Linked DNA regions of Homo sapiens. The protein of the gene in region 1 purifies or fractionates together with the protein of each later gene. This does not show direct contact. Each region holds a gene or a part of one and is shown in the gene's direction. Other genes may lie near its edges.

Region 1 (3,750 bases):
TGGAAGGTGTTAATGCTGTTTTGTTTTTTGTTTTTTAAGATTATGACTAAGGCTAGGCACGGTGGCTCACACCTGTAATCCTAGCACTTCAGGAGGCCAAAGCATGGGGATCACTTGAGCCCAGGAGTTTGAGACCAGCCTAGGCAACATGGCAAAACCTCATCTCTACAAACAATACAAAAATCAGCCAGGTGTGGTGGTGCACTCCTGTGGGTCCAGCTACTTGGGAGGCTGAGGTGGGAGGATCGTTTGAGCCCAAGGGGGTGAGGCTGCAGTGAGCTATGTTTGTGCCACTGCACTCCAGCCTGGAAGACAGAGTGATACCATCTCAAGGAAGCAAAAAAAAAAAAAAAAAAAAAAGATTAGGACTGAAAAATGGTTAGGCAGTGTCAGAACTCAGAGACTGACAGCTTGAGAATGAGAAACACTGTCCTGCCTGGTGGTTAAGAGCATGAGCCCCCACCGGGGACCCAGCTCTGCCAGGTGTGCTTGTGGGAGCGTGAGCCACCACTGGAATCTCTGAATGTCTGTGTCCTCATCTCTAATGCCAGAGCTCACAATACCTCCCTTGCAGGGCTATTGTGAGAATAAAATAAGATGCAGGTAAATCTTAGCTCAGTGCCTGCCATGAAGGAGGTGGGTGTTGAAATCATGAATAAAAGAATAAAGATTAAGGATGTGAATAATATAATTGTCTTTAAGTGGGTTCTGGATAGTTTTTTCCCCCATGGGTGCTGAAGAAGTCCTGAATAAAAGAAAGATCAAGGCTGGGCGTGGTGGCTCATGCCTGTAATCCCAGCATTCTGGGAGGCCGAGGCGGGTGGATTACTTGAGGTCAGGAGTTCGAGACCAGCCTGGCCAACATAGTAAAACCCTGTCTCTACTAAAAATTCAAAAATTAGCCGGGCATGGTGGCAGGCACCTGTAATTCCAGCTACTCAGGAGGCTGAGGCAGGAGAATCGCTTGAACCGGGGAGGTGGAGGTTGCAGCGAGCAGAGATCGTGCCACTGCACTCCAGCCTGGGTGACAAAGCTACGCTCCATCTCAGAAAAAAAAAAAAAAAAAAAAAAAAAGATTGAGGCTTTGGATAATATAATTGTCTTTCAGTGGGTTTGGATAGCTTTAGGTGACCGTTAGGTGAAAGGCATCAGGACGAGGACTGTCAGTGGAGGGGTCTAAGCACCATCCTCTGGCACTGTATTCATCCATTTACATCTTTGCACACACATGCTGTGATTTGCTCTGAGCTGCAGCATTGGGGAGAGAGAAGTGTTGCCCCATGTGTTTATAGGAGCAATTTGATGTAAGAGAACAATCCCCCCAGCCAACTTTTTGTCAGTGTATTCAGAAGTTGTAAACTTACCCACTATTATATCCCCAAGAAGCAGGAACTAAAAAATGACAGCCCTAATGAAGGGTGGAAAGACCTCTTCTGAGGTGGTAGATTCTATGTAGCACCCATGAAGTAGGTTTGGTAAGCCACTGAGTTTTTGAGGTGAAAGCAAAATTTCCTCCTGCGAGCCAAACATGGGAGTATCATGGCAGTTCTATGATGAATATCTATGTGTGGCCCTGAAATGGGCCGTAATGTGACTTGTGGAGTTAATCATTAGCCCAGCGGTTGTCTGAACGACTTGATTTCCCTGGGCTGCGAGCAGTTCACCTGCAGAGGAGGCTCCAGAAAGCGGCATGTCCCCTTTGCTCTTTGGGGCTGGGCTGGTCGTTCTGAATCTAGTGACGTCTGCCAGGAGCCAGAAGACAGAACCTCTAAGTGGCTCTGGGGACCAGCCACTCTTCCGTGGAGCTGATCGATATGACTTTGCCATCATGATACCTCCAGGAGGCACGGAATGCTTTTGGCAATTTGCCCACCAGACTGGATACTTCTATTTCAGTTACGAGGTATGTGGGTGACTGGCCATACTGGGGGGCTTTTTTTTTTCTCCTTTACTCATAAAGTGGGTCAGGTTTTAGGCCAAAACAAGGTCTGGTTGTCTTTATTATGCTGTGATTCCCCACCTGTTAATGAAATGGACCTGCAGTTAGAGGGAAACTCCAGCTGGGTGAATAATCACCAACAGGAGCTAAAACATATGGTTTGGCTTCTTACATCAGGGGCCATGCTCAAAGCCATGGGGCAGACGGGGTGCCTCTCCCTGAAGAGGTAATCATTACATGTACTCGGATTTGGGGATGAGAGGGGAGAGAATACATTTTTAATATATTAAAACAAAATTGGATAATGGTGCTTTGGAGACTGATCCAGAGATTTCAAAGAAGGCTGCTTCAGCTTATGGGGTGGGGGAGTAAAGGTTCTGCTGCCTTTAGGAGCAATTCTGGCAAGTCAGAGATTCACTAGGTCAAGTTTTTTGTATTCGGCCAGTTAATCCTATTTTTTTTTTTTAGGACGGTAAGTGTTTTCAAGTTACTTATTCAAAGGTCAAGTACTTTTACCCATACTATGGTCTTATATCATGCTGTCCAAGGATGGTGAACTCAGTATGAAAGTTAGAGGCTGTTCATTTCCTTTGTTCTTTATCTTAGAAATCGGTTAACTTTCTAATTTTTGTTTACATAGTAATAGACTTTGTTGATCTTACTCCACTGTAACAACATTTATTTTAAATAAACTTATCAGAGACTTTTCTTACCTCTGAATTTCTATTAGAACAGCAGCCACTACTAAGCTCACTGTGGCCTGGCCTAATCAAGATCTAGCTTGGGAGCAAGTGTCCATGGAGTGCTTGTTGTAGGTGTGCACTGCCAAGCAGCAAATGCCCAAATCTGGGACATCATTGGGGAGCTCAACCACCAAGCAAGTTCATTCAAGAACTCTACAGCCAGGCCGGGTGCGGTGGCTCACATCTGTCATCCCAGCACTTTGGGAGGCTGAGGCAGGCGGATCACCTGAGGTCAGGAGTTCGAGACCACCTTGGCCAATATGGTGAAAACGCATCTCTACTAAAAATACAAAAATTAGCCGGGCTTGGTGGCATGTGCCTGTAATCCCAGCTACTTGGGTGGCTGAGGCAGGAGAATCGCTTGAACCTGGGAGGTGGAGGTTGCAGTGAGCCAAGATCACTGCACTCCAGCCTGGGTGACAGAGCAAGACTCCGTCTCAAAAAAAATAAAAAATTCTACAGCCAGAATCGTACTTTTTTTTTTTTTTTTTTGACAGAGTGTTGCTCTGTCGCTCAGGCTGGAGTGCAGTGGCATGATCTCGAGTCACTGCAATCCCTGCCTCCCGGGTTCAAGCAATTCTCCTGCCTCAGCCTCCAAAGTAGCTGGGATTATAGGCGCACGCCACCATGCCAGGCTAATTTTTGTATTTTTTAAGTAGAGACAGGGTTTCACCATGTTAGCCAGGCTGGTCTCGAACTCCTGACCTTGTAATCTGCCCACCTCGGCCTCCCAAAGTGCTGGGATTACAGGCGTGAGCCACCGCGCCCGGCCCAGAATCATACATTTTAGTGGATCCACACTAGCTGTGTGTTCCGAGCAAGGCATGTCTTCTTCACACGGGTGCTGTTGGCATTCTGGGCAGTTCTTTGTCCTGCTGTACTGTTTCTTACATTGCAGACGTTCAGCAATGCTGTGCTGCCTCCCCTTAACACCATCACTGTGATACCTCAGAATCCTCCAATCAACTCCAAACCCCAGCAGGGGGTTGGGCAGTCCCACCCCAGACAGAGACCGCTGTGCTGATGACCGTGGGACGTCAATCTTACCACTCAGCTGGCTTCCTCGTG
Region 2 (3,750 bases), about 22 Mb from region 1:
TATGGAACAATACAACATATTTTTATAGATATGTAAGTATGAAAATATTAAGTGTGCTTTAAGTGAAATTAAACAATATTTATTAGATCTCATTCTTCATTGAAATATTCCTTGAAAAGATAATTCCATATTCACAAATTTTTAGGAGCGTTACCTGGAATATTGACTATAGAAGAATGTTGTATTGCTTTTAATAAAAGTAAATCAGTTAAACTTAAAAAAATTATTACAGTTGACATGGGAATTGGATCAAATTTTAAAATTTGAATGTTTAAATGTGTAAATAGGCCAGGCGCAGTGGCTCACGCTTGTAAACCCAGCACTTTGGGAGTCTGAGGCAGGCGGATCACTTGAGGTCAAGAGTTCGAGACCAGCCTGGGCAACATAGTGAAACCCCATCTCTACTAAAAATACAAAAAATTAGCCAGGTGTGGTGGTGCACACCGGTAGTCCCAACTACTCAGGAGGCTGAGGCACAAGAATCTCTTGAATTGGGGGTGGAGGCTGCAGTGAGAGCCGCGATCACGCGACTGAACTCCAACCTAGGAGACAGAGTGAGATTCTGTCTAAAAAAAGAAAACAAACAAACAAAAAAGTGTAAATAGATGGTTTTATTTAAGAAATCTAAATTAAATGTTAAAAGTCACCATTACCCTTGAATACTAAATGTGAGAAACTAGTTCATGGGTGATGTTTAAGAAAAATATCCATTTATAAATATAAAAAGAAGCCAGTCACGGTGGCCCATGCCTGCAGTCCCAGCACTTTGGGAGGCTGAGGCGGAAGGATCACTTGAGCCTGGCAGTTCAAGACCAGCCTAGACAACATGGCAAGACCCTGTCTCTATTTTTAAAATTAAAAATATATTTTAAAAATAAATATACAAAAGAAGGCATCGATGTTTAAGAGTATACAAATAGTGTTTTAGTCCACTTTTATCAGTGGCCTTTTCATGATAGTAGCTTTCTGGGGATTTCATTTCTGTTGGGGTCTTCAGGGGCTCCAATAAATAGCATCCCTTTTCCCTGGTGGAGTGCTGAACCAATTGAGAAATAAAAGTGTCAGTGTGTAGGGAGTTGGAAAAGCCTCTTTACCACAGTGAAGGCTAGGATAGAGAGAGCAACGCAGAGAGATGATCTAATTAGTGTTGGCAACTCCTTGCCCACCAGTTCTACGTCTCACCTAAGTCTAGAACAGCCCATTCCACTCCAGGGAAAGTTCGCATCTGCAGAGCAGACCGGCCTACCCAGTCCCACTTCCTATGAGGGGAGGGAAAAAGAAACCAAACTCCCACCATCCAGGTAACTTGCCCTGCCTCCCTGGGTAGGATATAGGGATAGGGTAAGAGGTCACTTACTTGATGAAAGTTGTAAGTAAAAGATCCCTTCTCATGCAATCTGGAGTAAAAGAAAAGTAGTTTATGCCCTTCTCCCAACATTGCAATTTGTCAGATTCACGTTATGAATATTTCCCAAAAATTTGTTGAACTAAACAATTCAATATTTAGCTGTATTTACAGTAGAAAAGTGCTGTGATCTTGTTATTATTTATCTTTAACTCGATGTTTTTTTAAAAATATGTCTTTGAAGAGCATTTACTATAGCCTTATATAATACCATATTTATTTGGATTAAAAGAAAAGCAGAGAGTAAATATAAATACTTCAGACAGCTTGATTATTCTACTGATACTTCTACCAAGTCATAGTTTTACAAGCCTAGTCACTTTCTCATTGTCTGCCATGAGCAAGAATTATACTGGATGAAACTGAGCCAGTGACCTTCCATTGGAAGACATCACAGTCTAGTGGAAGAGGGAAGTCATTACAGCATTAGAGCTCGCTACCAGAGTGTGAGCGGAGGGTTTGGGTTATATAAGTGATGGAAAACTAATGAGAACTGTTGATATATTTAAGAAAACATATTGCTTCTTTGTTAAAATACACGCATGAAGACTTTGTAAAGTTTTGAACTGGAAATCCTATTTCATTACCAATTTTCCACCATTCTCACGGAAGTGGTGAACCAGTCATTTCAAATAAACCAAAATTATTTAGTCAAAATGTAATTCTTTAAGCTATATTTTGTAAGTTGTTCTCTCTTAGTTTTATGCCATCAAGGTATTTGGTGGGGTGGGGGGGGAATATATGACATGACATTTTTGTTTTATTAATCTCTTCGAATTAAAGGGTAGATGTGGCATACTGCTCCCTCAGAAATAATAGCTAGGAAGTGAATACTCATTAGATGTCTTGAATGGCAATTCAAAGGTAATCTTTATTCACTCACTCAAATTTTATTTTAATGATAGAGTCACATATGAGAAACTAGAGCCCAAACAGGGAACACTGTGTGAGTATGTAAAGCGCTTCATGGAATGAGAAGGACGCACATTTAGAGTCAGACCAACCTGGGTTTAATCCTTGCCACCGAATAACAGATTCATCTCTGCCCACAAAAAAACATGATACCTACTTCATTAGGCTCTTCTGGAGATTAATGCTTAAAATCTAAATTCACAATGTAAGAGAAATCGCCAAACAAGAATGGGTCAAGAGTGTTTAGGAAATAACTTAGAACCATTTAGCTATAAAATTTGAATGGGGGATGCTAATAGAGCTTCCTTTGATAGTACAGTTGACGTCTGCCTGTCTGAAAATGCAGGTATTGTTAAGAGGTGAAATAAAGCAACCATGTAGAACAGTAGGATATTGTGTAAATAAATAATAGGACATCCGGGAATAGGTATGGCTAAGAGTATAGATAAAAACATTTTTATATGTTACAGCTAAAGTAGGATGTGTATATCTTACAATTAAACACAGGTTTTTTTAATGTGCAGAAAGAGTGAAAAGAAACTCACCAATTAATCACATGCATTGTTGGAATAATAGAAATATGAGTGATTATTTTATTTTCTCCCCTGTCCAGTACCATGAGATTGCTTTTATAATGAGAAAAATGTGAGATAGTTATGCCTTGTGAGCAAAAAGTTTCTACTCTTTATAGACAAAACACAAAGTAAGTTCCTTAATGCTTGGTTCCATTATAAAGACAACCAAAGAAACAGATCATTAATCTTAGTTCCTCTCACTATTTAGGCATCAGCCATTTATCGATTATGGTTTTCTGTCAGCTGTCATTCGGTGTCCCATGTTGTCTGTGGAAAATAGAAATAGAAAAATTCAAATTAATATATCTTTTTAAAAGCAGTGTTTTTGTGTTAATATTACAGATTTATTTGAGGTTCCTAGATTATCAAATGGAGCACTCAAATGAATGCAAGAGAAACTTCGTTGCAGTCTATGATGGAAGCAGTTCTATTGAAAACCTGAAGGCCAAGTTTTGCAGCACTGTGGCCAATGATGTAATGCTTAAAACAGGAATTGGAGTGATTCGAATGTGGGCAGATGAAGGTAGTCGGCTTAGCAGGTTTCGAATGCTCTTTACTTCCTTTGTGGAGCGTAAGTAAATAATTCCTATAGTATTGAGATCTTTTACATATTTTTCACTCATTCACAGTACACTCAGCATTTACTTTTTTAAAATATTTATTTTAGGATGTTTTTTTTTGTTTTACTACAGCTCTTTTTAATGCAAGAATATTATTTAAATTTAAAATATTTTAAATTTTATTTAATTTTTAGAGGTGGGGTGTTGATTTGTTGCACAGGCTGGCCTTAAACTCCTGGGCTCAAGCGATCCTCTGCTTCAGCCTCCCAAGTAGCTGAGACTGCAGGCACACGGCACT

The links. The genes of interacting proteins can lie anywhere in the genome.
Region 2: the proteins of TMED6 (region 1) and NETO2 purify together in Homo sapiens (affinity purification with mass spectrometry; 2 studies listed by BioGRID and IntAct, with this or other methods). This does not show direct contact.

What each region holds. Positions count from the first base shown.
Region 1 is NC_000016.10:69,349,694-69,353,443, reverse strand, and holds the start of TMED6 (transmembrane emp24 domain-containing protein 6 precursor), read left to right. Parts: upstream 1-1,657; 5' UTR 1,658-1,690; coding exon 1,691-1,903; intron 1,904-3,750.
Region 2 is NC_000016.10:47,109,196-47,112,945, reverse strand, and holds part of NETO2 (neuropilin and tolloid-like protein 2 isoform 1 precursor), read left to right. Parts: intron 1-3,234; coding exon 3,235-3,463; intron 3,464-3,750. UniProt on the Homo sapiens protein: Accessory subunit of neuronal kainate-sensitive glutamate receptors, GRIK2 and GRIK3.